Linked DNA regions of Homo sapiens. The protein of the gene in region 3 purifies or fractionates together with the protein of the main gene of each other region. This does not show direct contact. Each region holds a gene or a part of one and is shown on either strand. Other genes may lie near its edges. The genes, in order: TNS3, WWC2, DLC1 and C17orf75.

Region 1 (8,026 bases), on a different chromosome or scaffold from region 3:
GTTGTATGACTCATGCTCTGCTCTTTTCATTCTTCTTTCTTCCCTCTGGATGCTCCAAGGTGCTTTCTCTTACCATTTCCTTTGTGTTTGAACTTCTTTTGTCAATCTTTAAATGTAGGCTTGCTAGCAACTAATTCTTTTCGTTTCCTTCATCTGACAATATCTTTATTTCCTCTTCATTTCTAAAGGAGAGTTTCACTGAATATAGAATGCATGGTTGATTTTTATTTTCTTTCTGTCCTTGGAAAATGTTGCATAGCTTCCTTCTGGCCTTTATGGTTTCATAGGAAAAATCCACTGTCATTCCAATTGGTGTGCTCCTATTCCTATTCAGAATCCATCATTTCTCTGTGGCTGCCTACAGGTTGTCTTTAGTTTTCAGAAGTTTAATTACAATATTTCTTGGCATGGATTTTGGTTGTGGTTGTTGATCCTGTTTGGAGTTCACTTGGCTTCTTGATGTATACATGTCTTTTTGCTATATTTGGGGAATTTTTATCCATTAATCTTCAAATATTCTATAGCCTCTCTCTTCTCCTTTGGGCACACCAGTGATACAAATGTTGGATCTTTTGTTAGTGTCCTACAGGTTCTTGTGGGTGTTCTTTTTCTTTTTTTTAGTTTATTTTCTCTGTGTTATTCAGATTGAGTGAATTACATTGTCGCCACAGTCACTGATTCTATCCTGCCATTTCCACTAGTCTACTACTGAATCCATCTAGTAAGATTCCTTCACTTCTGTTATTATACCTTTTAGCCCTGTAATTTCCATTTGGTTCTTCTTCATCACTTCTATTTCTTTACTGTGGCTTTCTATTTTTTCATTTCTTCAACAGATTTGCCTCTTGAAGCATTTTTATGATGGCTGTTTTCAGATCCTTGCCAGATAACTCCAGCAGTTGGTTCATCTTGACGTTGGCATTCATTGTCTTTCTCATTCATGCTGCACATTTCTTGGTACTTGGTATGAAAGGAATTTTCTATTGTATCCCATTTTACCTATTAGGGAATTCTGGGTCTTATTTAAATATTTAATTTTAGCAGGTAATTGCCCTGATTCTGCTTAGGGAGCAGGGCCTGGCCTGATTTGTGGCCTGTGGTCCCACTGACAGTTTAATCGTCAGAGCCTTTCAGCGTTATGTTAGTCTGCTTGGTTTATCAGGTACCTCTGGGGTCCCTGCTGACGTTACCTGAGGGACAGAAGGGGTGTCTCTCAGTGGGAGAGGGAAGCTGCCAGCACACAGCTATGAAACCTTCCTGGCCTGGTGTGTGTTCTGGTGGGTCCCCTGCCTGTGGGAGATGGAGTGTGCTTCCCAGGTGGGGCTAAGGGGGATCCTGCTGTTTTCTCCAGCCCCCCAACCCTGGACTCTCTGAGATGGGACAGAGAGGCTCCCTCGGCCAGATCAATCATTGCAGTGGAGTCCCTTTTGCTGTTTCCTCTTCCTGGTCATCTGGCTTGGTGATAGGCTCTTGGTGACCTATTTGTTCTGTTGCCTCAGGCCAGGCTTCACACTGTGAACTGATTTTTCAGGAATTTAAGGGCGACTTGTGTTTTTCCCACTTATCTTGTTTGCCAGTTCAACAGCCCTTCTGTCCAAATGTGTCCAGATCTCACCAATCCCTGCATCATAAAATGTCCCTTCCCAGTCCAGGCCCCAAGTCTACCTGGAAAACTCCAATTCATCCTCTGAGACCAGCCCAACTGCCCCTGGTCTGTGAAGTGTGATCCCCAAAGCCATCAGGCAGGCAACCTACCTCCCTGGGGACAGGATGAGACACAGAAGCCCAACTGAGCTACAGACCTACTGTCCTCCAGTGGGCAGATCCAAAGTGTTCATTACACAATAGATCAATGACCCCCCAAGTGGACGGACCAAGGTGCCCACCACATTAATAGAAGGACGACCCCAGTAGGTAAGGCCCAGGTACTCATTAGGTAACAGATTGCTGAGAGATGAATGGGGGACCCATAACATCCTCCTGCAGCAAGTGGCAGGGGCCTGTCCAGCTGAGGTCTCATGGCCACTGGGTCTCTCCAACAGTCCCCAGGGCTGGCTCTGGTCGGGGACCTAGGCACATGTGCACACTGTACGGAGCCCAGTAATTGTGACAAGTATGGTGTTCTTGGGAAGCACACTCCCTAAGCCGCAGTGAAATCAATGCCCTGTCCACCTTTCCACCTTGTGACATTGGTCAAAGGTCTGGGCAATGACTGGCTTCAAAGACTCAATGGGAGCTTCCTGTTGGACAAGATTTAATCTGCCACCACCTGCCCTCTCTTCTGCTCCAAAGCAGTAGTACCGGGACCATTTCAAGTTCACTCTCCCAACATAGCTGGGGTGAAATATCTCTGTGTCTCCTCAGAGTGGAAAGCTACAGTCTCTGGGGGCTGACCACGCAGGCAGAAAACTGTGCACAGGGTGGCAGCTAACTGCCATCTTTATCTGTCCATAACCAAATGAGCCCAAAGCATTGCTTCTTTTCTGGTTTGGATCTGAGGGAGTGAGGTTAGATGGGGTCCTGTGTCCCATCACCTGACTCAGGAGGGAGGGGACAGGCCCAAGAGGGCAGAGTCCGTAGAAAAGGGCAAACTCCCTTAAGGTGGGGAGGGAGGAGCCTTGGCTGGGGGAACAGAAGAGGCAGGTGACACTGGCTGTCTCCAGCATCTGTTGATGTGTAAGTGAATCCACCAGTCTCAATATTCACTTTTAGTGCCCACTTCAATAGACACTGGGAGGTCCTTCAGGAGCTGGCCCACTTCAGGGGTGTGTTTCTGCAGCCAGTGTGTGTGTAGGGGTATTCATAGCAACATCGAAAACATGTCAGGACCCATTATCAACACTGCATTGTGGTTAATCTTCAAAGATCTTTGAATATAACATTTCAAAGGTCTCTGGGCAGAAATCTTAATATATTCCTGACAGCAAAACATTTGTGATTTTATAACTGAATCCACTGATTTGTAAACACACAGACACACATTCATGAACGAGCACACACGCAGACGCACAGACACATGTGGACAAAGATACATCTGTGCAAGCACATGCACACATTTGCAGAGACACATACACAAAAGTGCACACATGCACACGCATACACACATGTGCAAACACACACAAACATACTTCAGGGTACACAAATACCGTCTCACGGAGGCTTACCAAGTTCATAATTTTATTATACTCTGAATAGAGATGATATTTAAGGAGCAGAGAAAATGACTATACAAAAGATTTATAGAACATTCATTTACATACTGGATATATTCTTTACAGTATCAGAAAAGTAAAAATATGCACTAACAAGGCAGAGAAGACGTTACAAGGTATTTGATGCTGAGAATAAATGCACAGTGACTTTTAACATGGCTATAGCTTAACACTGGAGGAATACAACAATACGTTCTTTTACTGAGTAGTTAGTAGGACCCTGGCTATAACATGCGTTGGGCACAGTTCGTGAACTCTCCGCATTTACTCCCCAGGGCAGTACGTGCCTGTCCAGCGGGAGCCCTGGAGACAAAATGCCTGGAAACGTTCCTTTTCCTGTGGCCCTAGAGCCGGTGTCCACGGTGGGGGCTCTCTCACGGTTTCTGAGCCCACAGTACAATCTGTGATGACACACAGCTTGTTCTGTTTAATGCACATGTAACACAAAAGGAAGAAAGAAACTTCCTATACCAGCTCTTCAGAAATCGTGGAAACTTGCTTCCTTTGGTTCCTCAGAGGGAGCTATCTGCTTGGAGCAAATTCCCCGATGCCCTTGACCACGTTTACCTTGTGTAAAAATCACACCTGGCCAATGAGTTCAAAAAGCACGTTTGCAGGGCTTCCTGAATGCCGTCGAGGCATGGCTTCATGAGGGCCATCGCGGGCACCCCGATGTCTCTGTGATTCCCTGGCAGGCTGCGTTTCTCAATACTGAGACCCTAGTTTGCTCTGACTTCTAAATGAGCTCTCTCATCCTTCATCAGAAGGATAAGGAACCTGGCCTGCACTCTTTGGGTTAAACATGGGTAGAGACCGTCTCAGGATGAGGACCTCTTGGGGAAAGTACAAACCTCTGCTCCCTGTGGCCACATTCCTGCAGTGGATGAAAAACCGAGATGCTAGAGGCCTCTGCTAAAGACATCAGGGTCAACACATGAGGATCTGCTGAAAATGCCAGCACCTCCTGACAGTCATGCCACCGCAAGTTAGAGAAGGAGGTCCACAACGACCAAGGCAAACATTTGGCACAGAAATGAGGCACTTGGTTTGGTGCATCAATAGGAGCTAAAAAGTGGAATGGTCCACCTGCTTTCACACACGCATACACGCACGCATGCACACACGCACACACACACAACACCCACTGTGATTTGGCTGCTTCCAACTCTGCCTGTTTCTAAGTTTTCCTCGGCCCCTCACTTTAAAGCAGAGTTCACAAAGCACATTCCCAAACCCCAGCTCCCTGACAGGAGCTTGTGACACCAGTGTGGCCTAAGAATGGGGGATTTGACTTTTGAAAGCAGAGGAGGGAATTTCGGGCTGGATCGCAATCAGGACAGTCAGCATGCCTGCAGAGCACCTAGGCTGTGAGAGGATGGGGCCAAGGCCTTATTCTGATGTGGCCCAGCTCCATCTTTCACTCTGGGGATGTTCCAGGGTCACAAATTCCCCCAAACCTTTGACCACGAACAGATTCAAGCAGGAAAACCAGGGCATTGGAATGTTGAAATAAGCCTGAAATACACTTGATTCAGTGGCTTAGATGATGGCAAACAGTGGCACTCAAAAACAGCTTGTCAGTACCGGGGTTTCTTCTCTTTTTCCTCATCCTCCCTTCTGCTCACACATGCCACAACCACACATGGTCCCCAGCAGGAACCCCAAGGTGGCAAGGAGCAGCACAAAGAGGGCTGATAAATGCAGGCGAACTTCAGGTCGTGCAGCTTCAGGCCTGAAGATGATCGAAAAGCCCATGTGGGGGATGCTGAGCTTAAATCCAGGAGTTTTCCATCCCTCCTGGACTCTCTCCATCAGAAAAGAAGTCATCCACAATCGGGGAAAAACATTCCAATGAGTAAAACATCAGGGTAGGTTGCTTGAGGCAAAGCCACCTTTGGGCGGCACCGCATATGGGAGACCCACAGTCCACTGCACACTCTTTCAGTGGCCAGGGGCCTGCGGTGCATCCTACATAGGGACAAGCCTCACAAAATCACAGCTTGGCAGGCTGCAGCATTTGACACTGGTACAGTATAGCAATGGCAAATTATCATAAATAATTTGGCATAAGTAAAATATAAATTACATAGAAATAATATTTTTGTTCCTTCTTCTCATTTCTCCTCTCGGTCCTCACAGGCTCTCCCCAGCCCAGCTCGCCCAGCTCGCCCAGCTCGCCCAGCTCACCACAGGTGAGCAGGAGGCACAGAGCACTCACCATGGTGGGGTGGCATGGGGTCTCCAACGTGGCCAATTCTTCCCACCACCCCCATCCTCACAGCCCATCGCAAAGGCCCCTCGTTGTAGGCCCTGCTGTGTTCCAGAAGGGCCTGACTTGCACAAACCTTCGTCAAACATACGCCCCCTTCTCAGTTTCGTTAGCATCTCCATCTTGGGAAGACCGAGGTGAGGGAAACCCCCGGCCTCGGGTGCAGCTGGACAGAAGCGCCCATGCGGACGGGCGAAGCATGGCAGTCACTCGGCACCTCTGCCTCAAGGGCTGGGGATTCCTCATCCCCCGGAATGCTAGTGTGCCAGGGACATGGGGACCACCTCGTGTTCTGTGCTGTTTCCTTGCATGTCCCTTTCCCATGGGGACCCTAGGGGGTGGGGTGCACCCATGCCCAGCTTCTTCTACCCAAAAAGCATGTGGCTACAGAGATGTGTCAGATAAGTCACTTTCAGGAAAGGCCAATTCACGGTGATGTTGTTTGTTCTTGTTTTTGCAGAGCTGGAAGATCCTCTTTCCCCTCATGGGCCTGGAATGTCAGGTTTACTAGTTTGGTAAAAAGTGGGGGCCCCACCCTCACCCAACGGCTGTCTCCAGGGCTTCGAGAGGCATCGGTGGGTCCAGGGAGGGAGGGGAGTTCTCAGACCTTCTTTGGGGAACCAATCATGACCTTTGATACGAAGTTGACAATGGCACTGGCAGGCTGCTCAGGGTCATGCTCTGCAAACAGGTGGCACACATTATCCGTGGCACTGCCCTGCTTCCGGGCCACAAATCCAAAGACTCTGCCAAAGGAAAGTCCAGTCAGAGTGGTCAGTGTCCCACAAAGTACCAAGCTTCTACTTCCTCCAGCTGCCAGCGGCACTGTCAGGAGGAATTTTAAGTGGCACCTATCAAAAATCAACCACGTGCCCAGCACCCTGCTGGCCACCTGTTCATGCACTTTACCTCCAGCCTTCACAGACCTACAGATGGGATGTCTGACTCTAGCTCTGCAGTGAGGACCCTGAGGCTGAGAGGTGAGTGCCCTGTCCACAGCCCCAGGTTAGGACCTGAATCAAAGCTGAGGCTCAACTTCCTCTATAGATGCTTCCCCACGCCAGGGCCAGAATCTCCTGGGCACCTGTCCCTGCAGATTCCTGAGCCCCAGTCCTGACATACTGGACCACAGTCTGCAAGGCGAGTGGCAAGGGACTCAGGGGCTCCTGAGATGATGCCAGAATGCAAGTCCTGTCTGGACTTCGACACTCCCACCCACTGGGACCGAAGGGGAAATACACTAGGCGCTCCTCTCAGGCCTTGGAAGCCTGCATTACAAACTACATAGACTTCAGGGAGCTGTTTAAAAAGAACAGCCCATCGAATTATTTTTCTTAGAAGAATTAGAGCCATTATCTTAATAGGCTTTTATGAGTCCTGCACTTCACACAATAATGACCATATCCCTATCCAGGTCCTGGGCAAAGGACTTTCTTCTCTTTCTTAGAAAAATGAAGGATTTTTTTTGTTTAAATTTAGCAGTTTCCGCATCATGAAGGGACCAGTCAATGACACTCAGGTAACCCCAATACAGTCACAAATTCCAAGCACATGAAAGCCCGTGTTTCTGCTACCAGCCAGAGTGGGAGTGTGCCCAGAACACAGTCCCCACCGGGGAAGCCCAGCTCGTCAGTACCAGGGTCTCTTCTCCTTCTCCCCGCTTCTGCTAACGCATGCACTGAGCAACTTCCTGGACAGACAAGCCATTTGAAAACAGGATTCCAGGGAAGGATGCCTGTGATCAGGCACTGTGGTCATTAAATCCGGGTTATGCCGAGGAAACCAGGCTGGGGGGATACAGCCCATTGTGCCTCCAAGTGGGAGGTTAGGATGAGGTCCCTCAGCTGGCCCTGACAGGAACACTGGGCCAGGAATGAGCCCAGGCCAAGCAAGGCCACGGTACTCAGGGAGCCAGGGAAAGGTGTGCTTATAAAAGGGGAACTCTAAGCCGGGCACGGTGGCTCACACCTTTAATCCCGGCACTTTGGGAGGCTGAGGCAGGTGGATCACCTGAGGTCAGGAGTTCGAGACCAGCCTGACCAACATGGTGAAACCCCGTCTCTACTAAATACAAAAAATTAGCTGGGCCTGGTGGCGGACGCCTGTAATCCCAGCTATTTGGGAGGCTGAGGCAGGAGAATTGCTTGAACCCGGGAGGCAGAGGTTGCAGTGAGCCAAGATCGCGCCACTGCACTCCAGCCTGGGCAAAAAGAGCAAAACTCTGTCTCAAAAAAAAAAAAAAACTCTAACAGCTGCCTGGACTGGCTGTGGAGCAACGGTGTGATGAAGGCCCTCCTCCGTTGCATTTGGTAAATTTGGAACACCCGCTTCATCCACACACCTGCACAAAGGGAGCAATTCCTTCTAGCTGTGCAGACCTCAGCACTGCTGAGCCCATGCATTCCCAAATGGCCAAAAAGGCTGTGCCATCCATCTCCCTGTATCTATGCCACAGTGTTATATGACACATGTAAATATTGCACATCCAGCCAACAGCCGGCAGAAAAGTTAACAGCATCCAGATCCTTGTCCATAATGAGAACAC
Region 2 (8,068 bases), on a different chromosome or scaffold from region 3:
TTAAATACTGGTTTCTAGTCATGCTGTCCTATGAGAAATATCATTAGCTATGTCATTTAGCAGAAAAGGGGAAGGGAGACAAAGAAGGAAAAAAGTAAATGATCTGGCTGGGCGTGGTGGCTCACGCCTGTAATCCCAGCACTTTGGGAGGCCACGATGGGAGAAATGCTTGAGGCCAGGAGTTGGAGACCAGCCTGGGCAACATGGCGAAACCCTGACTCTACAAAAAGTACAAAAAAACTTAGCCAGGTGTTGTGCCGCACCCCTGTAGTCCCAGCTACTCCAGAGGCTGAGGTGGGAGGATCACCTGAGCCCAGGGAGATTGAGGCTGCAACGAGCCATGATCACGCCACTGCACTCCAGCCTGGGCAACAGAGTGAGACCCGGTATCAAAAAAAAAAAAACAAAACAGAAAGTAAATGATCTGTTTTTATCAAACTCAAACACTGATAAGCAGCAGATAAGAAAAGAACATATGGTATGGACAGAATTACCAACCAGCCCAAAATTACACCTAGACCAGTAAGTCAACAAAGCTGATAACCCAGTGATACTATGTACAAAGCAGATTCCACACATTCATTCACTGTCACAGTTTCAAAGAAAAAAAAAGACTGGAATTCTAATGTATCTCTATTAAAAACCATAATGCTAAGGAAAACTGCAGAGTAGATTCAAGTTTCACACTAAATGAAACTACATGCTCCTCAAATCTTGTGCAAAGTTGTCTACCACATTTTAAACTTAACTGAATATCACTGCCACTTCATACCAATTATGCAATTATAAAATGCACAACTGTCAATAAAGTATGCAACGTATTCTACAGTCCATTAGTAAGTCAGAATTTTATTTTATTTTTTGAGATGGAGTCTGGCTCTGTCGCCCAGGCTGGAGTGCAGTAGTGCAATCTCCGCTCACTGCAAGCTCCGCCTCCTGGATTCACGCCATTCTCCTGCCTCAGCCTCCCGAAGAGCTGGGACTACCAGCGCCTGCCACGACGCCCGGCTAATTATTTTATATTTTTAGTAGAGATGGGGTTTCACCATGTTAGCCAGGATGGTCTCAATCTCCTGACCTCGTGATCCGCCCGCCTCAGCCTCCCAAAGTGCTAGGATTACAGGCGTGAGCCACCGAGCCCAGCCCTGTAAATCAGGATTTTAATCAGGGGTTTGTAGCACCAATCTCTATAATTCAACGTTTACCTCTGTTGTTCACATTCAGAACTGGTGACCAACACAACCCAGGCCACACCAGAAAACAACACTGCACATGCAGCAGGAGCAAAGTTCACACCAAAGGAAAGCCTCTTTGCCTTCCAAATGTTGACATACTCATTTTCACAAAAATACCAGGGACACTTACTTAGTTAAAAGTGATTATTGTCATAACACAATGTCTATGCTTCTTTAAAATTAAATTTCCTACCTCCACTCCTAGTGAAACCAAAGTACATTAAATGTACACCTTTATTCAAATGCTCTATTGGAACTATTGTAATTCCTCATGAGCTACAGGAGTGAAAAAACAGCTCCCAATACATAACTCTGTTAGTGCATGACTACCTCACTTCTGAGCTGGCTCCATTTTGGAACCATGATTTGTTTACTGACATCAGGGCAAAAAGTATAGGAAAAATTACTGACAAAGCAAAAAAAAAAAAAAAAAAATAGCTCTACAGAGCAGTCTTTGGGACATGCTTCAAAGTGACAGGCATCACAAGGATAATATATGGAATAATTTTTTGCTTGATCATCACCTAGTAATTTTATAAATATTATCAATATGCCACAAGAAAGTCAGTATTTCTAACTACCAAAGCATAATACTATATACTTCCAACAGTCAAGTATAAACAAACAACTATGGTACTTCCAAAAATTCATTTTGCCTGTTTTTCTCATGTCCTATGTACAACTCTTCTTAAGAATTATATAGCAGCGCCTGGTATCTGGTAACTTTATTGAGTGACTGGGGTTGAGCTGTCTCTACACCACAAAAGCAATCTCTACTTTAGGCCCTGCCATGGCAAAGCCAGGTGCCCAGAGATGTCTCTTGATTTTCCATCAAAATAATCATGAGGTATACAGAATCCACAGGCTGCTACATTTGAACAGGGACCCATGAAATCATTCTTACCTTAAGAGTAACAGACCTATTTCCACTACCATTAGGTCCAGCTAATTCAAAGAACCAGTTTGGGAAACTAAGTAACATGCTGCATTTCCTTGTTTTAAAAACAAAAAAAAAAGTAACATGAGATACAAGACAGCTCCTCAAATTCAGCACCCATGTCTGACTCACCTTTGTCCCACACAGTACCTAGAGTCCAAATCCCTTGTGGAATAAATCAGGGGTTCCCAACCCCTAGCCACAGACTGGTACCGGTCAATGGCCTGTTAGGAACTGGGCCGCACAGAAGGAGGTGTGTGGTGCGAGCAAGCATGACCGCCTGAGCTCCGCCTCCTGTCAGATCAGTGGTGGCATTAGATTCTCATAGGAGAGCGAACCCTATAATGAACTGCACATGTGAGGGATCCAGGCTGTGCGCTCCTATGAGAATCTAACTAATCCCTGATGATCTGAGATCCAACAGTTTCAGCCTGAAACCATCCCTCGCAACTCCTCCAATCCCATTCTGTGGAAAAATTGTCTTCCACAAAACCAGTCCCTGGTACCTGAAAGGTTGGGGACTGCTGGCATAAAAGAATGTGCAATGATCACTAATAAATGTGCCATTTTATCATAAAAGGTTAATATTTATAGAAACATTTAAAAATATTGCTATAAAATTTTTAAAGACAATGGCAAACTCTTTCTGTAAAGGGCCAAAGTAAACATTCCAGGCTTTGTGAACCACATTTAGTCTCTGTCACATATTCTTCTTTATTTTTGTTTGTTTGTTTACAGCTTTTCATGATTTAAAACCCATTCTTAGCTGGAGGGCTAAAATGAGGCCTACAAAGCAGAATTTTCATATAAACAACAAACATGGTTATGCTTCCACCAAAGAAAATCACTTCGTTTTGTGTGACTTTTAAGAGGTCTTTTAAAATTTTATTTTTTAGAACAGTCTTAGATTTATAGAAAAAAAACCACAAAATTAGTGTGGAAAGTTGCCATATATAGTCCACACTTACTTTTCCCTGTTGGTATGGTACATCTATTAACATTAATAAAATTAACTACAATCGGGCCGGGTGTGGTGTCTCACACCTGTAATCCCAGCACTTTGGGAGGCCGAGGCAGGCAGATCACTAGGTCAGGAGTTCAAGACTAGCCTGGCCAACATGGTGAAACCCTATCTCTACTAAAAATACAAAAATTAGCTGGGTGTGGTGGCACATGCCTGTAATCCCAGCTACTGGGGAGGCTGAGGCAGGAGAATTGCTTGAACCCGGGAGGCTGAGGCTGCAGTGAGCCGAGATCACAACACTGCACTCCAGCCTGGGTGAAAGAGTGAGGCTGTGTCTCAAAAAAAAAAAAAATTTTAACTACAATCCATACCTTATTCAGATTTCCTTAGTTTTCACCTAATGTCCTTTTTCCAGCCCAGGACTCCTCCACCCCTGGGACACATTACATTTAGTCTTGGTGTCTCCTTACGCTCCTCATGGCTGTGAGGGTTTCTCAGACTTTCCTTATTGGTGAGGATCTTGACGGTTTTGAGGGGTACTGGTCAGGTATTTTATAGGATACCCCTCTACTGGGATCCAGTAGGTGTTTTTCTCAAGATTAGACTGGAGTTACTACGGTTTTGGGGGAGAAAGACCACAAAGATAAAATGCCATTGTCACCACATCACATCAAGGGTGTATCAGCAGGACTTAGTGCCCTGGATGTTCCCTTTGATCACCTGATGGAGGCAGCGCTTGTCAGGTTTGCTCCTGCCATTTTTTAAAAAAACAATGAACAAAAATAAATTTAATTCTTCACATATATAACGAGCTAAAAGGAAAAGCCTTTACATGTCAAATCATTTTGAATAAGCTGATGTATATACATTGCACATATGATTCATTACGTGACTCACACAAATGCCTCATAAAATACATCACATTTGAAATAAAGAAAAAAATTAATATATACTTTGCCAATATATTCTGCTTTTAATTCCTTTCAACTGTCTTCCCTCTGAGTGTTTAGGAAGAAGGTACCCTTAAACTGAAATATAGGAATATAGAGAAAATTTAACAGATAATACTCAAAATTTTCTTTCACTTTTTAAATGATGATTATGCACACTAGATTGTAGGCAAGCTGAGCTGGGACCAAATCTTATCCATCTTTATCTCCCAGAGTCCAGGGTACCTGGCTGGTTGATACAATAAAAACTGTTAATTAATGCATATCTACAATGTCAGTATTAAATAATCACTCAAAGCAATCAGATAGGGAGAAAAGGGAAGAGCAATGTGAGACTAAAAAAACCCTCTAACTTCTCTTACCTAACTTTTTATTGATCAAGTAAGAGTGAGAGTACACAAACAAAAAGGGGGCAGAATAGCAACAGCTATAAAAGGCTAGAATAAGGGGAGGCTTGGGCCCAACTAAGGCCATCAAAACACTACGAAGAGGGAAATACAAATCAACACCACAGTAAGATCCTACCTCACACCCACTAAAATAACTTTTTAAAAAAAAGAAAGAAGTGAGGCCAGTTGTGGTGGCTCACATCTGTAATCCTAGCACTTTGGAAGGCCAAGGTAGGCAGATCACTTGAGGTCAAAAGTTCGAGACCGGCCCAACCCCGTCTCTACTAAAAATACAAAAATTGCCCAGGCATGGTGGCTTGTGCCTATAATCCCAGCTACTCAGGAGGCTGAGGTGGGAGGATCTGTTGAACCCTGGAGGTGGAGGTGGAAGCCGCAGTGAGCCGAGATCACCACTGCACTCCAGCCTGGGCAAGAGAGACCGGCTCCGTCTCAAAAGAAGAAAGAAAAGAAAAAAAGAAAAGAGAGAAGAGAAGAGAAGGAAAGAGAAGAGAGAGACAGAAAGAGGAGAGAAGGAGAGAAAGAGAGAGAAGTGTTGGTGAGGATGTGGAGGAATTTGCACACTCATACCCTGCTGGTGGGAATGTAAAATGGTGGTAAACAGTCTAGCAGTCCCCTCAAAAAGTTAAACATAGAACTGCCATATGACCCAGCAACTCCACTTTTAGACATGTATATACTGAAGAGAACTGAAGACACACATTCATACAAAAATTGTACAGGGATATTCATAGCAGCATCATTCATAACAGCCAAAGAGTGGAAATGACCCAAATGCACATCAGCTAATGAAAGTACAAAATATGGTATATCTACACAATCGAATATTATTAAGTCATGAAAATGATGCAGTAGTACAATAAATGCTACAAAATGAACCCTGAATGCATTACACTAAGAAAAAAAGAAGCCAGATACAAAGGGATACAAATTTTACTATTCCATTTATATAAAATGTCCAGAATAGGCAAATTCAGAGACACAAAGTAGATCAGTTTTTGCAAAAAGCTGTAGAGACGGGAGATGAATGAGAAGTGAGTTCTTAATAGGTAAGGGGTCGTTTGTTTTGGGGGTGATTAAAATGTTCAGGAATTATACAGTGTTTATGGTTTCATAACAATGAATATACTAAAAACTACTAAGGTGTAGTCTTCAAAATGGTTAAAATGAATAATTTTATGCTGAGGAATTTTTTTAATCTAATAAAGATAAAATAATTGGAAAAAATCACTGAAGACATTGAAAACATTGTGAACCTATATTTTGATAAATCATTTGTATCTCACAACTTACATACACACTGTGCCTTTAAAAATCCCTTTCCTCAGCCGGGCGTGGTGGCTCATGCCTGTAATCCCAGCATTTTGGGAGGCTGAGATGGGCAGATCACCTGAGGTCAGAAGTTCGAGACTAGCCTGGCCAACATGGTGAAACCCCATCTCTATTAAAAATACAAAAACTAGCTGGGCGTGGTGGCGAGAGCCTATAATCCCAGCTACTCGGGAGGCTGAGGCAGAATTGCTTGAACCTTGAACCCAGGAGGCGGAGGCTGTAGTGAGCCGAAATCACACCACTGCACCCCAGCCTGGGCAACAAGAATAAAACTCTTGTCAAAAAAAAAAAATCCCTTTCCTCTTCTACATTATTCTGTGGTAACTTTTTCAGTAACAGGAGTTTAGAAATGCATAAAGAAGTCCAAAATTCTTTTTTTTTTTTTTTTAAGACAGAGTCCCGTTCTGTCACCCAGGCTGGAGTGCATTGGCGCAATGTCTGCTCACTGCAAGCTCCGCTTCCCGGGTTCACGCCATTCTCCTGCCTCAGCCACCCAAGTAGCTGGGACTACAGGCACCCGCCACCACGCCTGGCAAATTTTTTGTATTTTTAGTAGAGACAGGGTTTCACTGTGTTAGCCAGGATGGTCTGCATCTCCTGACCTCGTGATCCACCCGCCTTGGCCTCCCAAAGTGCTGGGATTACAGGCGTGAGCCACAGCGCCCGGCAAGTCCAAAATTCTAACACAAGATCAGTTTAACCAATTTCAATCAAGTTCATAGGAACCAGGGCATACATACAGACTCAAGCCCTATCATAAGGAATTCACAGTGTATTAGGGCTAACACTGTTTCCTGCTAATTTAGTAACTCCTGCATCGGCAAGAAGAAGCTGGCCATGCCCCTCTAAAGTGATAATCTCATTTTCCTACAGACAATTACTGAAAATAAGTAAGCAAGAGCCATTTACAAGGCAATGCAGGGCCCGGCAGTGTGGGCCAACAGACAACTTCCACGCTTTTCCTGGTGCACCTGGGCTTCCTCTGGTTAAATTTAAATACCAACTTGTTGAAGGCCACATGTCACAATGGCTGACTATGTAGATGAAGCTTAGGGATTTGCAGCTCAAAACAAATAACATATTTAAAGATAATAGTATGCCAGCACTTTGGTAGGCTAAGGCGGGCAGGTAACTTGAGGTCAGGAGTTTGAGACCAGCCTGGCCAACATGGTGATACCGCATCTCTACTAAAAATACAAAAATTAGCCGGGTACAGGGTGGCGTGCACCTGTAATCCCAGCTACTCAGGAAGCTGAGGCAGGAGAATCACTTGAACTCAGGAGGCACAGGTTGTAGTAAGACGAGATTGTGTCACTGCACTCCCGCCTGGGCGACAGAGCCAACTCTGTCTCAAAAAATAAATAAATAAAATATTTATTTTATTTAAAAAGCAATTATTGTCCTGAGTCTTCCAACAAAATTACACTGCAAGCTATGGACTATTAATGTCACTGGAGAACTCTTAGACCCTCCAATATACTAAGCAACTATAGTACTGTTCACTCCAGCAAGCATTATACCAAACTGTGTTAAAAAGAATATTTCTTTTGGAATTTTTGGAAGACAGCATACTTTAAATTAGTGCTTCCTAGAGTGATTTTTTTAATCCTCTTTTAACAACCTCTCCACACTTCAAATACTATAATCACTCAAATAATTCACAGTAACCACTTGGCACCCAGACTCAGGGCCTGCTGGAGAGGAACAATTCCAGCAGTCTATGACAATGGCAGTTGTGATTAAGACTATCAAGGTTCATTTTGTTTTCTTTGCTCTTATAAGTAATTCTCATATTTATACTATTACTCAAAATGTAGCAGCTCAATTCTCTTATTATTTTAAATATAACTGGAAAGTCAGTTGTCTCTGTTGGTGGCTATGGGTTTATTTTTTGAAAGCCCAACAGTAAGAATCTGGAAATAAGAGAGTAGCTCAATTAATATTCTTTCATTAATTTAACAAACTGTCTTCATTAACTAAATTAACCAACATTTATTTAACATACCATGTATAAAGGATTCAAAAAGCAGTAATAAGCAATCGGGGACTCCAGGAGTTTACAGTCTAGCAGTGGGTTCATAGAAATTACTTAATTTGCCAGCCTGGCCAACATGATGAAACGCCACCTCTACTAAAAAAAACTACGAAAAATTAGCTGGGCGTGGTGGCAGGTGCCTGTAATCCCAGCTACTCGGGAGGCTGAGGCAGGAGAATCACTTGAACCCAGGAGGTGGAGGCTGCAG
Region 3 (8,068 bases):
TTGCCCCATTCCCCCTCACCACAGCATCCCCTCGCAATTACACAAACACCAGTCTCATGTACGTAGCAAAGAAAAGGTGCCAGTTTGGATATTTATCTTATGTCACCAATGTCAGCACAATTTCTATGAGATTCTTAGGTCAGTTCTTTCAGTTTCCTTTCCTTCCCTAACTCTCCTGGGGAATTCCTGAAATTTGGAACAGGTATTCTTAGGAATTGTCTAAGCCATAGTTTTCCTAAAATGTTATCTGAATAGAAGTTTAAGATACATAAAATAACATATAAATAGCATTACATTAGTACATGCACATAAATGGGGAATTCTCACTCAAATTCCCACTTTTCCTGAATCCCTCACTCACAGTACTTGGAAAGATGGCAACTTTTGTATTCATCCCATCAAATGCAGGTATCTTATTTTGTCCTTTGAGAATACATGTGATACATATATGTGTGTGTGTATATATAAAGCAGTCCTTTGAGAATACATGTGATACATATATGTGTGTGTATACATAAAGCAGTCCTTTGAGAATACATGTGATATATATATGTGTGTATACACACACATATATACACATATGTATACAAATACATGCACACATAAATATGTATATGTAAACACACACATATATATAAATGAACACGCTATTGACTTCTGGGTTGTGAGAGTGTGTGTGTGTGTACACATATATATTGATATAAATAAATGAACACATGATTGACTCTAGGATATTCTATTAAATATCCTGAATATTTAATGGAAGGGAAAATAAAGACATAACAGTACTGCCATTTTACTTTTCTTTTCTTACTTCTTCCTTAGATAGCTAGAATTACTTCTGGTTTCCCTTAGAGTTTTTCATCCTGATTAGCCATCCCATGTTAAATTTCTAGGTCGTGTTCTCCACCTACTGCTTTATACACATACACACACATGGACACACACACACACACACACACATGTGTGTGTGTGTGTATATATATATATATATATATATATATACACATATATATACACACAGAGAGACACATGCACCCAAATATATATGTGTGCATATGTATGTATATAAATATACACACACACTTACATAAAACAGCTATCGCATAGCATGTGCTTAGTCACTGTGGGAAGGAAGAGAAGATGTAAGGGAAATAATCTCATGTTAATTAAACGCAACTTAACAGTTTCTAAAATGCTCTCTCAGCATATGAACGAAGAAGAAGACACCTCTACATTTGGCACATTTTGTTGCTACGTGGTGAGGGTCACCTTAGTAAGATGCATATGTTGGAAACCTGAATATCTGGTAATGATATGAAATCTTACTGTATCTTAGCCTACTCTTGGGGACTCACACTTGTACATCGTATGTGCCCCCAAAACACTTACTGAATTGAATTAGGCAACTAGAAAAGACGATCAACAACCTGGAAACAGACATGATCACAGGAGCACAACTTAATATAGTTCTTCAACTCATGTCAAAGTAAATCTTCATTACAAAGAGCATTTGTGGAAGCCAAAATGAAACCCATTTTCTTAATGATAATGTCAAAGAACAAATTACCTAGCAAACTAAATTGTGTACATTTGGGCGCCTTCCCACTGGCACACAGCTCAGTGATAAATGAAGAGGAATGCTCTTTACGACCAAACTGACTTGACATATGCTTAGAAGCCAGAAAGCCCAGGGAAGATATTATGTTTCTTAATTCCTTTATGTAAATACACAAACAAATAGCAAAAACCGTAAGAGCACATTTCTAAAAAGCATTTCTATGAGTCTAGTCCAGACAGCCAACTTTCAGTAAAAAACAATTAGTGTTTTTCCTTTAAAATATTCATGTTATCTAATCTAAATTAGACAAGACTAGAATTAGACTGTGGGTGGATAAACATTTAATAACATGATGCAAGAATTTACCTCCATATGATTTCATGCAGATTCCCTTTCTTTAGTAGCAATATGTGTCTTAATCCCACACAAAATCATTATTCCTCTACTTTTACATACTTTGTTTAATGCTGGAATGTACTTGTTATACCTCATTACATGTTAGTGGAAAACATGAATCCCTGTTAAAAGTTTTATTGGCAAATTGCTTAATGGAGATTAAAATATTATATATGAAGTAGCTTCCATGTCTTTAGGCTGTCTGGAAAGCATCAAAAACTTTACCAAATTAAAGAATAAGTCATCTATAATGAGCCAAGTAAGGGGAATAAGTAGTGTTTCACTTTTTCCAAAATACACATCCAACGTTCCATCAGGTTTAGTCTTTAGAAGAAAAATGAAGAAATAGGTACCCAGCTGAAAAATATTATTTTATTGTTAACCCATTTTTAGGTATATCTGAGTTTTTACTCAACTTAAAACATTTTTTTTATTCTTAGCCCTCAGTGATTCAGGCAAATTTGAAAGTTAACTCTTTCAATCCACTAGAAGTCAGCTCATGAGAAAAGAGCAGGGTGTTGCAAAACTGCAAGCTATTATTTCAGCGGTGCTCTATTTTTACGTCCAGGTTGCTGCTATTTAATGTCGCTTCCAGTAGTGTCTAATTTTCTTGCAGAGAGGAGAGCAGATACTGGCAGTGTTTGACTTACCACCCACTTTATGGCTCAAGCCAGCCAGATTTGGAGATTCTCTTAACATTTTCTTAAGCAACCCGCATGTAATTTGAGGAAACTGGGAATATTTTATGATATTCTCCTGATATCACTGAGATCTTTCTGGGGATATTGGTTTCTAGGAGATCCCAGAATTAACAGAGCCATGTGGGACAATATTGCTTTATGGATGTAGTAACTTCTTTTTCTTTTTTTTTTTTGAGACGGAGTCTCGCTCTGTCGCCCAGGCTGGAGTGCAGTGGCGCGATCTGGGCTCACTGCAAGCTCTGCCTCCCGAGTTCATGCCATTCCCCTGCTTCAGCCTCCTCAGTAACTGGGACTACAGGTGCCCATCACCAAGCCCGGCTAATTTTTTTGTATTTTTAGTAGAGACAGGGTTTCACTGTGTTAGCCAGGATGGTCTTGATCTCCTGACCTCGTGATCTGCCCACCTCGGCCTCCCAAAGTGCTGGGATTACAGGCGTGAGCCACCACGCCCGGCCAGATGTAGTAATTTCTAAGTATCTATGTTTTATTTGGATCTCCATGTTTTATTTTTTTTTAAGTATGCAATCTTCTTAATAGTACTGTTTGATCCTATGCAGAATAATTTGGGCATTTACAAATACATTGTACCTTAGATTAATTCTGCAAATAAATTCATTAATGAATAATTATCTTCTTTGCCATAATATCTCTTTTCTGTAGAACCTCTTACAATAAAGAGAAGTATTGCCTTTCCTCTGATCTTGTTTCACTTGAAATTTTTCATGTAACAGGAAATAGCCTAGGGTTAAAGTTGATATTAAACGTGTGGCTGACCTTTTTATTATTGATGGCAAAGCAGTATGATTGAAATGTGGTTTGCTGTATTATAAAAAGATATTTTTATTCAACAAGGAACACGGATTATAATGTTTTATCATCATCATGGTGAGATGCGGTTTTGCTTTAAGTGGTCACTTTATTTTTAGCTTTGCTATCATTTCTAAGAACACTCCAACAGTAGACACAGTAATCACTCCGCGTAAATAACAGATATAGCTACATCAACCCAGGTGCTCAGATAGCAAGTTGACAGTAGGGAATTACATTTTTAGTCATTCCATAAGCACAATTTTCACTGAAATCAGGAACAAGATGTCATTAGGAACTTAATTACTTCTGTTAGCTTGGTGTCCTACCTGGGGTCAATGTCTCTGCTATCAACTTTTGTCTTCCATACATCTCTATCATCTCATCTTAATTATGTCATCTACCTATAAATGTTTGAGCTTATTTTTATCACCAAGTGTTTTTCTTAATACCTAAGAAATATTAAGTGCATTAGAAACTTATAATGATAATTATAGTAAAAACATCCTTCAATTAATTAAGCACTTATTATGGGCCAAGTACTGTATTCGGTGTGTTACTTAGAAGCTATCTCCTTTAGCAGTAATACAAATGTTGTATGAAACAAATACCATTATTGCTCTAATTAATTTGATAGGGAAGAATTTTGGCAGGACTGATTAACTAGCTCAGTGTCAAATACATACTGGTGGGCAGGAATTGTCTCCCATTTTTGTGAGGATGTCTGTGAAATAACTTTTTTCCCCCTGGTGATTAGGGTTAGTTACCTAAATTCTATGTACCTCAGTTTTCTCAGTTCTGTAATGGGAATAATGAAAAAACTGTTGAGGGGAAAATGATAATGAGTTAATAACAATGAGATTATAATATATGTAAAACACTTAGTCCATGGCACATTTCAAGCACTCACTAGATGTAAAGTGACTTGATCATGATGATGGTGATGGTGATGGTGATGATGACTCCTTTAGCTTTCAACTGATCTTAGCTGCAGAATCCAGGGCTGAGTATGAGCTGAAACTATCTCTTCTATGTCCATGATATTTCAATATAGATGAGTGATTAGAACAAAATGTGAGTGAAACACAATTATTCTTTATTCTTTTTTTTTTTTTTTTTCCTGAGATGAAGTTTTGCTCTTGTCGCCCAGTCTGGAGTGTGATGGCACAATTTCGGCTCACTGCAACCTTCACCTCCCAGATTCAAGTGATCTCCTGCCTCAGCCTCCTGAGCAGCTGGGATTACAGGTGCCTGCTACCATGCCTGGCTAAAGTTTTTTGTATTTTCAGGAGAGATGGGGTTTCACCATGTTGGTCAGGCTGGTCTCGAATTCTTGACCTCAGGTGATCTGACTGCCTTGGCCTCCCATATTCTTTCTTGATTAATTGACTTATGCCTTTTTAAACAAGGACTTGTTGATTATACTGTATGCAAAACAATTTGCACACATGAAATCTCATCTAATGCCTAACATGACCTGGAAATCCCATACTTTACTAATAAAAAGCAGAAACTCAAAGTAGTTACGGGGCAAACATCAAATCACAGAGCGTCAAGTGGTTAAGAGGAAATCAGAGCCAGTTTTCTAACTTTGTCCATTATTTTTTTCGGTACACCACCCCATTTAAAATGTGGAAAATTCACTAGTGCTCTGTTCTCACTGGCCTCATGTAACTTTTAATTTCAAACCATTTCTGGATGCCTATGCTTCCTTCTGGTGCTTAATGAACTTGAAATGTCATCTAATGAGAGTGTTGTTAACCTCTGGCCCCAGGCTCTGATGACTCTTTCCAACCTCTTATTTTCCTTCCCCTTTAGAAATTATTATTCTATTATTACAGGATGTCTGGAAAATAAGAAAGAAGTCCAACTCCCACACATTACCATTCCTCAACCCTGGTTTTCCTTTCTTTTTTTTTTCCTTCGCTTTTCCTTCCATTCATTTCACAAACATTTATTGACAAATAAGTGTTGATAATTCCTGGCAAGCTAGGTATTTTGCTAATTGCTGGGAATAAAAGAAACACTAATTGAGTATCTAAACCTGCTGTTTGATCTTCCTACTTCTTTTCTATCTCATTTCCATTAACAGGGCTGATTTTCTCTTTGAATTATTTGAATTGCATTGCTAAAACACTTTGTTATTTCAAGCTAATACAGAAACAACCTTTTCACACATGCAATTGTCTTTTCCACCCATTTATCTCAATTAATGAGCAAGTTCATATGCATGCTGTTTACATTATCTTTCACCTTTTTTTTTGGCATTTGAGTCACTGTTTAATCTTTTAAAGTTCATTTATATACTCTAATCCACTGAATCAAAATTAACAATCTTTTTTAACTGGGCCTCAAGGTCCTAGTTTATTCATTATTATTCTGTTTAACTTTCTTAAAAATTAGCCCATTTATTTATCAAAACTCTGTAAACTATCAGTTGAAAGCCAAAACAGAACCATAGAAGTAAACACTGTATTTCTCTATCACACCAAAGTCAATCAAGAGTCATTCTTCTCTGTAACTCTGTTTGGTCTATGTTGTTTATGCAAGGGGCTTATCTTTCGTGTGGGGAAAGCAGGCCCAATATTCACACTACTTCCCTCAAATTTGAAAGTTTTCAGTGTTCCCTTGTCCTCTTCCAATTCTCATGTGCAATTCTTGACATGTCTCTATTTTGATAATAAAATCCCTGATCTAGATCTTGGTCATTTGGAACTTTGCCATACTGTAATAGTTTTTAAAGAGTGATTCTCATTTTATAACACTGACATCACTCATTTTTCAAGAGGAAACAAAAAACAAACAAAAGACAAATTTCAAATGATCAATTTTTGACCTATTTTAAGCCTGTAAGATCTAAAACTCTATGAATAAGATTAAACCATCCCATAAGTATTTGTAGTGAGTTATATGGTATGGGTAGGTATAGACAGAGAGAGAAAAAATTCTTTTTTTTAAATTATAATGTCCTTATGAAGAAAATGAAGTGATGTGCTATCTTTTACTAGGCCTTCTAGGAATCAGGCAGTCAGCTATAAGGGCCACCACTTTACTGCACTTATTTCTCATTCCAATAATGTAGAGTGTGGTGACATTGAAAGGAAGTGTTGAATAGTGTCTCTTTTAAGTAGTAATAACATCAGGAAACTCAATCTGGTCATGAAAATGGAAAAAAAAAGTATCGTGACACATTCTCTCTAAGGAAATGGCAGCTATTAGAAATGGAATGTGTTACATTTATGAGAAAGGGTCTTGTCTGAGAAGGTATACTGCTTCAGCACACACAGCAACAAATATTGTCATATATGAAGTATGATGCAGATGAAATAGCCCACGCTCCCATTTTATACCACGTTGTTCAGACATTTATTTATATACTGTAAAAATTCTGCATTCTACAATTAAATGACTTTGTAGAAGGCTTAGAGCAGACATACAAATCAATTAAGGGATTGCAAACATGCTGGAGAAATGTAAACATATTTTTTATATGTCAACTTAGGCTTTTTATATATTTAGTGAAAAGACCCACATAGAACTTGAAATAAGCTACAGCAACAATGATTTAGGCTAGATAGAAGAAAGGATGCCTGGGGGTGGTGCTGTAAAATTGCCTCTGAAAGTCATTGGTTGGGACAGTTTCATTATGATCATTTGAGTACAAGGATATAAATTAGAAAAGCTGTTTTCTAGCCCTATTTTTAAAGAAACATCAGATTAAAATTAATATAATTATTAGCATATGGATTGATTTTCTTGACATAAACATCAAATATAATAAAATAGTCATAAAGCAAGTTACTACTGTAAAGTGTTTATTGAAGGCATACTGATTTGATTTTTTTTTAAAGTTAGGATTTTTTTCCCCACATAATTAACATTGGTGACAGTTTTACCTTTTTTTTTTTTTTTTTTTAAATTAGAGGAACTGCAAATTTCTGTCTGCAAAGCACCCTTCTACTGGACATGTTCATACTTCATTATGCATAATTATTATGGGAGGGCAGGATGATGGGATAAAAAGGTATCTGAATTATGAATCAGGGCACTGTGGTTCTGCTGTCCTCTCTTCTATTAGCTAGAGGTGTGACCTTGGACAGGTCACTTTTAAATCCCATTTCTCAGCTTCTTGTAGACAACCTCAAGCCATTGTTAGAGGAGACCATCTCTTATGTTCTTTCCTTCTCTGAAATTCCATTTGGAGATTTTAATTAAATCATAATTTAGATAAGTCAGTATTTTATCTTCCACATATATAAAAAGTAGATTCTTTTTCTCATATTTAAGAAGTTTTAACACAAATTGTCAGTGAATAGTTAAAATTTATCAATATAAGTTATTCTAGCATAAAATTTGAGAATAGCTAATATAGCAGATGGTCACCTTGTACTATATAAAAACTTATAATGAAAACAGTTACTTCATTTCTTATGATCCAACTGTCAAAATAGCTCTCCATCTTTCACTTAGTATATTTTGTATTCATCTAATAGATTTGAAAATGTACATGAATATTTCTTCCCTTTATGTACCATTTTATTTCTATAAAATGATGAATTTTATTATAAATATTCAGAAATATAACAGTATCTTATGCATTATA
Region 4 (8,068 bases), on a different chromosome or scaffold from region 3:
TTTTTTTTTTTAGACAGAGTCTCACTCTGTCACCTAGGTCGGAGTGCAGTGGCACAATCTGGGCTCACTGCAACCTCTGCCTCCTGGGTTCAAGCAATTTTCGTGCCTCAGCCACCTGACATAGCCAGGATTACAGGCATGCGCCACCAGGCCCAGCTAATTTTTATAATTTTAGTAGAGAAAGGGTTTTGCCATGTTGGCCAGGCTGGTCTTGAACTCCTGGCCTCAAGCAATCCACCTGCCATGGTCTCCCAAAGTGCTGGGATTACAGGGGTGAGCCACTGCGCCCAGCCCCCATCAGAATTTTGAAAACTTAGCCACTGAACCAGTTTTTTTGTGCTTTCCAACTAAGTTAAGTCACAAATTGTAAGACTGATGTTCCTTAAATATAAGCAAGCATTCAACCCAATTTATTAGAAATGATATGTATACAGAAGCTGCCAAAAAATAAAGTAAATGTCTTCTGATAATTCCAGTTTTGAGAACATCCTAATTAACAGACATCACAGCTATAAAGCAATTTGTTACTCTGTCACTGGTACTAATTAAAATTCAGACAAAAATTTCATGTGGCACTTGGCACACAGCCAACTAATTACCTTTAGTTTAAAGTTCTCCAGTACTTGTCGGAAAAGAAAAGGGTTACCTCCTTTGGCACCATTTAAAAAAGCTTGCATCCAATCCTCACAAAACCGGTTACTTCCTATAAAACATTTCAGAGAGACTAAATAAAATGAAATTTTACAAAGCTTTATTTATTTATTTATTTGAGACGGGAGATTCGCTCTTGTTGCCCGGCTGGAGTGCAGCCGGAGTACTAACTATATCGTTAGTAGAGATGGGGTTTCACCATATTGGCCAGGCTGGTCTCAAACTCCTGACCTCAGATGATCCACCTGCCTCAGCCTCCCAAAGTGCTGGGATTACATGTGTGAGCCACTGCGCCTGACCCATTTATTTCTTTATAAAAACACCTATAATGAATTATTTAAGACATGTATAATGGCCTAAAAAAACAGTGTGCTCACCACATGGCTAAGGAATACCAAAATGGCTGAAGCCCCCTGTATGCCCCTTCCCAATCACATCCCCCTTCCTTTCCCATCAGAGAGGATAATCATTCCCACAGACGTCTTTAAACTTTTCCCATATACCTTTGCACGTGTAAGCCTTATCTACATTATTCTGCATATGTTAAAACTTTTATGTATTTTTTCTTTTATGGCTATTTCACTAAATAGTATGTTTGAGAGCTATATTGACACAAGTAGCTCTAGTTCATTCTTTTTCACTGCTCTGTTATATTCCATTGCATGAATATAGCAGCTTATCAGTTTTCTTGTTGATAAACACTTAAATTGCTTCCAATTCCTTGCTTTTTCAAGTAATGCCTTTATGGACATTTTAAAATTCATCTCCTTGTGTACACATACTAGAATTTCTTTATGTACCTAGGTGTGGAATTGCTAGGCATGGCATGATTTCCATGTTTCTAGAATTATATTGTTTTCACCAAGTGGTTTCTCATGGTTTGAGATAACCATGTAAAACTGCACAAGGCAGGAAGAATAAGGTTGTATCATAGGCTCTCAGTGCAAAGATGGGGACTCGCAAGAGATGTAGGAAGGCTGCTTCAGAGGTTGTAGCTCACCTGCATTGCAGAACTGAGGCTGGGAGCTGCTGCAATCGATGACCACAGACTTATGCTGCTCCTCTGTCATGGCCATGCACAAAGAAGTCATGGTGCCTTCATGAATAAGTCCTTGAAGACTGGCCACACTCAGAAACCTGCCACACACACAAGTCCATTTCCACAAACAATATTGCAGGACGGAAGGATGAAAACAAATTTATTTTGCACTGGGCTGGTGGGGAAGGGATGGAAGGAGCAGTTTACAAACACAGATGTCAATCTTGCTGTGGAAAAGCTTTTCTCTTTGAAAAAACTGTTCTTTACCTGTTAATGTCTCTCTTTGTTTTTTCATCTGATTCTTTAACTTCAACAGGAGTGTAACTCAAAGCCTATGAGAGAAAAATAAAGCCTGATTGGTACATATATTCCAGTTTTTCTTGAGCAGCTACTCATGACTAAATGTCCCCATAAGTCCCTACCACACTGGACAACAATTGATGGGCACTGGTCACAAGCTCTCCAGAGCCTTGTTCAGCCACTGCTCATTAACATTTTATAGAATCAAAATTGCTCTGGATTTTTGTTTTCCTTTTCAAATTGTTTTGGAAACTATACCTTTCCCAGATCACTTGGAAAAGTAATTATTTTAAAATGTTTTATCCTATTAGGAAGACTCAGCATTTGAAATTCAACTCTACCTTAGTAATATCACTTTCTAGATCTGAGAAAATAAAGTGTGGTCTATCTTGATAGCAAGCATAGTTTGAATATTTGGGGAGGGATGGGAGTCATGTTCAGAGAAAATGAGTATGTTTCTAAATCATCCAAAGTGATTCTCAGTTAAGGAAATGCTCTCATTTGGCAGTACTTACAGCATGTAGCAGAAAGGTAAGCTTTTCCTGAAAGAGAAGAACAACCCTTTGGATTGGGCATACAACATCCTCAAACCAGCTGCTCAGATAGGATTTTATGTGACTCTCCAGGCCCCTTGCCTAAATCAAGAAAGAACATCATTTGCTTTAATATAAGCCTTTCCTTTAGTGGACTTCATATTTTCTTCATCATATCCTTGATGGTGAAAAAGACCAGGATAGACACCTCCCTTTTTAAAGCTAACACCACCAATTCAAAAAAAGAAATTGTGATATACCTTTCCTGGCTTGTTGGGCAGGGTGAGGGTTAAATCTGTACTGAATTTATTTAAAACACACCAAGAAATGCATTCTATAAAATGAAGAGACTGAATAGGGTTCCATGCTATTTCTTCACAGGGAAGAGTTGGGCACTCACAAGTCCCTCTCCTCCCACTGTACTGTGCACTCAATGGAGATACTCACTCAATAATCCTCATTTCCCTGGCACCTGTGGTACAGTGTCTAAAACATGCATAGTATGAGCTTATTAAGTGCCTTTTGAATTAGTCATGTAGATAGAGAATTCATTCGTATTCAGAATGTGAATGGGGAAGGATACAAGTAACTCATCAAAGCACTCCACTCCACTCCAGATGTCAGACATGCTACCGTGAGCACATCTGGCTTTCTAGGCTATACTGCTCCCTGAAGACTAGTGTCACACACGAAGAGCTCTAGTCCGGGAGAACAACTCTATTAGACTTGCATCAGTTGCTCACTCCTGCACTATCCCTTCCTCTCTCCTGCAGTATCTTCTAAGTATGTGAAAAGTATAACTTCTACTATATATGTAATGGGTAGTAAATTTGTGAGAGTCATGACTAACAACTGCTACAAGCTGAAAGCATTGTTTTTGTTTGCTTTTTTGAGACAGGGTCTCACTCTGTCATCCAGGCTGGAGTGCAGTGGTGCAATCATAGCTCACTGCAGCCTCAACTTCCCAGGCTCAAGCGATCCTCCCACCTCAGCCTCCCAAGTAGCTGGGACTACAGGTGCGTGCCACCATGCCTGGCTAATTTTTGTATTTGTTGTAGAGATGGGGTTTCACTTTGTTGCCCAGGCTGGCCTTGAACTCCTGGGCTCAAGTGATCTGCCCGCTTTGGCCTCTCAAAGTGCTGAGATTACAGGTGTGAGCCACCACACCCAGCCAGTTTTTCAAAGGTTTGAATAAGTTGATATGGATATGCCTAATTCATAAAAGATCAATTAATGAAAATAGAATGTTTTTAAGAATCTTTGATGTTTAGTTCAAGAACAGCCATACTATTGCATAGCATGTCTTTGGTGCCAGAGGCTGCATGGACCAGTACTTCTGACCATAATATAAATCTTATATGCCTAGAAATCAGGAAAAGGACATCCTCTTCCTCGCCAGGCATGTTACTACATGCCATTGAATAGATCGAATTTTTCATAGATACAAAACATCAGACGTAGTCTTGTGAAACTTTCAGCACTTACAGGACTATGTTTCCTGTATCCCTTTAAGATCACCTGTAGGCTGGGTGCAGTGGTTCATACCTGTAATCCCAGCACTTTGGGAGGCCGAGGCAGGTGGATTACTTGAGCTCAGCAGTTCAAGAGTTCAAGACAAGCCTGGGCAATATGGCAAAACCCCACCTCTACCAAAAATACAATTAGCTGGGCATGGTGGTGCATGCCTGTGGTACCAGCTACTTGGGAGGCTGAGGTGGGAGGATCGCTGGAGCCCAGAAAAGGCTGCAGTAAGCCATGATCGTGCCACTGCACTCCAGCCTGGGTGATAGAGTGAGACCCTATCTCAAAAAATGAAAAAGAAAAAGAAACCACCTGTAGGCTGGGCACAATGGCTCGTGTCTGTAATCTCAGCACTTTGGGTGGCTGAGGAGGGAGGATTGCTTGAGGCCAGGAATCCTAGACCAGCCTGGGCAACAAAGTGAGATCCCCATCTCGACAAAAAATACCAAAAGTTAGCCAGGCGTGTTGGTATTTGCCTGTAGTCCCAGCTGTTTAGGAGGCTGAGGCGAGAAGACTGCTTGAGCCCCAAGAAGCTGAGGCTGCAGTGAGCCTGATCGCGCCACTGCCCTGCAGCCTGGGCAACAAAGCAAGACCCTGTCTAAAAAAAAAAAAAATTCACCTCTCTACTAGCTCACAAGGTGGCAAGTTTCTAGAATACAGGCGTCTTTGTGTCTACCTATATGATTTGACAAGTAGAGCAATCACAGTATATTAATCATTTCAGTCATTATTTTATTTTTTTAACTCTGTCGCTCAGGCTGGAGTGCAGTGGTGCAATCTCGGCTCACTGAAACCTCTGCCTCCCGGGTTCAAGCGATTCTCCTGCCTCAGCCTCCCAAGTAGCTGGGACTACAGGTGCCTGCCACCATGCCTGGCTAAGTTTTAGTAGAGATGAAGTTTCATCATATTGACCAGGCTGGTCTCTGACCTTGTGATCTGCCCACCTCGGCCTCCCAAAGTGCTGGGATTACAGGCGTGAGCCACTGAGCCTGGCCCCATTTCAGTCTTTAAAAACCATTAAGTCAGTCACCTTACCTCACAATTCATGTTATTTTTCAGCCCTTGAATGTACTTGTCCAATTCAAGCCTGAAAGTATGTTCTTAAGGAAGCAATAAAGGATGAATAATGAAGACAGTATTTCATCTCTCAACAAGAAATATAAAATCTCTCAAATAATGTGAGCTGCAAATGCAAACAAGCCAAGGCAAAATGGCCACATGAAGGTATGAAATTCAACTAAATACACGAGGAGTAGAAAAGCTTTTTGGAGGTTGGTAGTAATATTCTTCCACCTGCCTTCCCATGTTTTCCTTCCTGATGTTCTCAAAAACCAAAGAAAGGATATAGCTCAAGTCCTTTTTCAGACCCTCCTAAAAAACAGACCACATATTCTGAAGGGTTACGTTCAGAGTCTATCGTTACTGTTTCAGGAAGCAGTTTTTCATTTTGGAAAAGGCAGTAATAACAACCAACTCGGTAACCTGGAATTCTAGAAAAGAAAGAAAATGTAAAATGCATTATTTTGGTTACTCATGCATCTATAATTTTGTGGACTGCTCTGAATTCTGGTCATCTTGATCTGGCAACACCATTAAACTGCCCACTAACTCAGAGCTTCCCAGACTTCTCGTTGGTGTACTTGCAGCAGCAAAGAAAAATGAATGTATACCCTGGAGGGCTTTAGTTAAAGCAGCCACTAACATACATGAAATTTCTTTGAATTCTCCTGTCTTATGTGAAAAATTCACACAAATTTCACTCTAGTTCATACCCATGTTTATATTAAAAAAAAGTATGTTCTCCCCTCTCCCAAAGCTTCACAAATTGATGTTTAAGGCAGATGTGCCTGAAGGTGGCCTTATCCTTGGGAAGTGGCCTCAAACTCCTGAGGACCTGTATGCTAACTTCACGGTCTGAGTTGAACTAGAATAAAGAGGTGTAATGGAGGCCGGGCACAGTGGCTCACACCTGTAATCCCAGCACTTTGGGAGGCCAAGGCGGGTGAATCACCTGAGGTCAGGAGTTCGAGACCAGCCTGGCCAACATGGTGAAACCCCATCTCTACTAAAAATACAAAAATTAGCCGGGTATGGTGGTGCATGCCTGTAATCCCAGCTATTCGGGAGGCTGAGGCAGGAGAATTGCTTGAACCAGGGAGGCGGAGGTTGCAGTAAGCCAAGATCATGCTACTGTACTCCAGTCTGGGCAACAGAGTGAGACTCTGTCTTAAAAAAAACAAAACAAAACAAAAAAGGAGAGGTGTAATGGAAAGACAGTTGGAATTGGACTAAGAATGCTCATGTTTAAGCCTGAACTCCATCAATTTGACCAGCCTCATGACTTAAGTTTACATAAACTCTGAGTTTATTTCCTCATCTGAAAATGAAAATAAGAGAGTATCTGCTATATTTCCCCTTTGTAAGGAAAACTACATAAAAGTTTGTGAAAATACAAACTGTATACAAATTTAGTTTTAATAATCAACACTTTTCTTCTTCTAAGTACAAAACTTATTAGCCTGGGCAACATGGTAGGACCCCATTTCTAAAAAAAAAAAAAAAAAAAAATTAAAAAAATTGCTGGGCATCGTAGTGCCTGCCTGCAGTCCCAGCTACTTGGGAGGCTGAGGTGAGAGGATTGATTAAGCCCAGGAGGTCAAGGCTGCAGTGAGCTGTAATCGGGCCGCTGCACTCCAGCCTGGGCAACAAAGCAAGACCCTGTCTCAAAAAAAAATAAACTAATTAAATAAAGTGCAATTGGGTGCCAGGGTCTCTGCCATTCAATTAATTCCATTCCACAAATGTTTATGTGTGAGGCCCAGTGCTCGGGCTGCCAGAGAATAAAGACAAATTCTGCAGGTCTAGTAGGAGCTGATCTTTTGGAGTTTCTCATCACTTCTCATATTTAGTTCAGAAATAAAAACTCAGGACACAGCACATTTTGCACTTACTTTAGCTCCACAGATGCAACATTACCCAGCCCTTCAAAGACTGCACCTCTTGAAAGACGCTTAGCAATGAAACTGCGCAGCTCTGGCTCCACTTCGGATGGTAGATTAGTATCTGCCAAGGAGAGGCTTGACAAATGAAAGACACACATTCTTTACCAGTGGACTAGGGTATTCACACCCATTAAGTCAGACAGAATGGTACCAACGCCAGGGGCTCTTTTAAGGACTGGGGAAAGCTGTCCTTATGACCCCTATTGGTGAGGCTTCTAGGAATGTATGTCACTAAGTATGATCTACCTCATCAAATAGCTTAAAATATTCCTATCTTTCCAGCTCATTCTCTCCAGTACTGTGACTCCACTGGAACCCCCAATCCACTGACCCTACCTCTTTTTCAGTCTCTCAAGTTTCTCATCTCACTTCCCTCCTTATTCTGCCTTAATTCCATGGTCAGTCATTATAATCACACCCCTGCACACATTCTTATCTTTTTTATCTTTCAACTTTATTGAGGTATAATTGATGATTTAAAAATTTCAGGGCTGGGGCCGGGAGCAGTGGCTCACGCCTGTAATCTCAGCACTTTGGGAGGCCGAGGCAGGTGGACCACAAGGTCAAGAGATAGAGATCATCCTGGCTAACACAGTGAAACCCCGTCTCTACTAAAAAAAAATACAAAAAAATTAGCCGGGCGTGGTGGTGGGTGCCTGTAGTCCTAGCTACTCGGGAGGCTGAGGCAGGAGAATGGCGTGAACCCGGGAGGCAGAGCTTGCAGTGAGCTGAGATCGCACCACTGCACTCCAGACTGGGCAACAGAGGGAGACTCTGTCTCAAAAAAAAAAAAAAATTTTTCAGGGCTGGGCAAGGTGGCTCATGCCTGTAATCCCAACACTTTGCGAGGCAGAAGTGGGCGGATCACTTGAGTCCAGGAGTTCAAGACCAGCCTGGGCAACATGGTGAAACCCCATCTCTACCAGAAATACAAAAATTAGCCAGGCGTGGTGGTCAGTAGTCCCAGCTACTGGGGAGGCTGAGGTGAGAGGATCACCTGAGGCCGGGGAGGTTGACGCTGC

What was found.
Region 1: the proteins of DLC1 (region 3) and TNS3 purify together in Homo sapiens (pull-down; one study listed by IntAct). This does not show direct contact.
Region 2: the proteins of DLC1 (region 3) and WWC2 purify together in Homo sapiens (affinity purification with western blotting, with the first as the bait; one study listed by BioGRID). This does not show direct contact.
Region 4: the proteins of DLC1 (region 3) and C17orf75 purify together in Homo sapiens (affinity purification with mass spectrometry; one large-scale study listed by BioGRID and IntAct). This does not show direct contact.

Annotation. Positions count from the first base shown.
Region 1 is NC_000007.14:47,271,994-47,280,019, forward strand, and holds the end of TNS3 (tensin-3), read right to left. Parts: intron 6,228-8,026; coding exon 6,083-6,227; 3' UTR 3,161-6,082; downstream 1-3,160. UniProt on the Homo sapiens protein: May act as a protein phosphatase and/or a lipid phosphatase. Involved in the dissociation of the integrin-tensin-actin complex. EGF activates TNS4 and down-regulates TNS3 which results in capping the tail of ITGB1.
Region 2 is NC_000004.12:183,104,035-183,112,102, reverse strand, and holds part of WWC2 (protein WWC2), read right to left. Parts: intron 1-8,068. UniProt on the Homo sapiens protein: Regulator of the Hippo signaling pathway, also known as the Salvador-Warts-Hippo (SWH) pathway.
Region 3 is NC_000008.11:13,505,605-13,513,672, forward strand, and holds part of DLC1 (rho GTPase-activating protein 7), read right to left. Parts: intron 1-8,068. UniProt on the Homo sapiens protein: Functions as a GTPase-activating protein for the small GTPases RHOA, RHOB, RHOC and CDC42, terminating their downstream signaling.
Region 4 is NC_000017.11:32,332,818-32,340,885, forward strand, and holds part of C17orf75 (protein Njmu-R1), read right to left. Parts: intron 7,122-8,068; coding exon 6,996-7,121; intron 5,535-6,995; coding exon 5,391-5,534; intron 5,138-5,390; coding exon 5,080-5,137; intron 2,626-5,079; coding exon 2,506-2,625; intron 2,023-2,505; coding exon 1,958-2,022; intron 1,789-1,957; coding exon 1,652-1,788; intron 704-1,651; coding exon 600-703; intron 1-599. UniProt on the Homo sapiens protein: As component of the WDR11 complex acts together with TBC1D23 to facilitate the golgin-mediated capture of vesicles generated using AP-1. May have a role in spermatogenesis.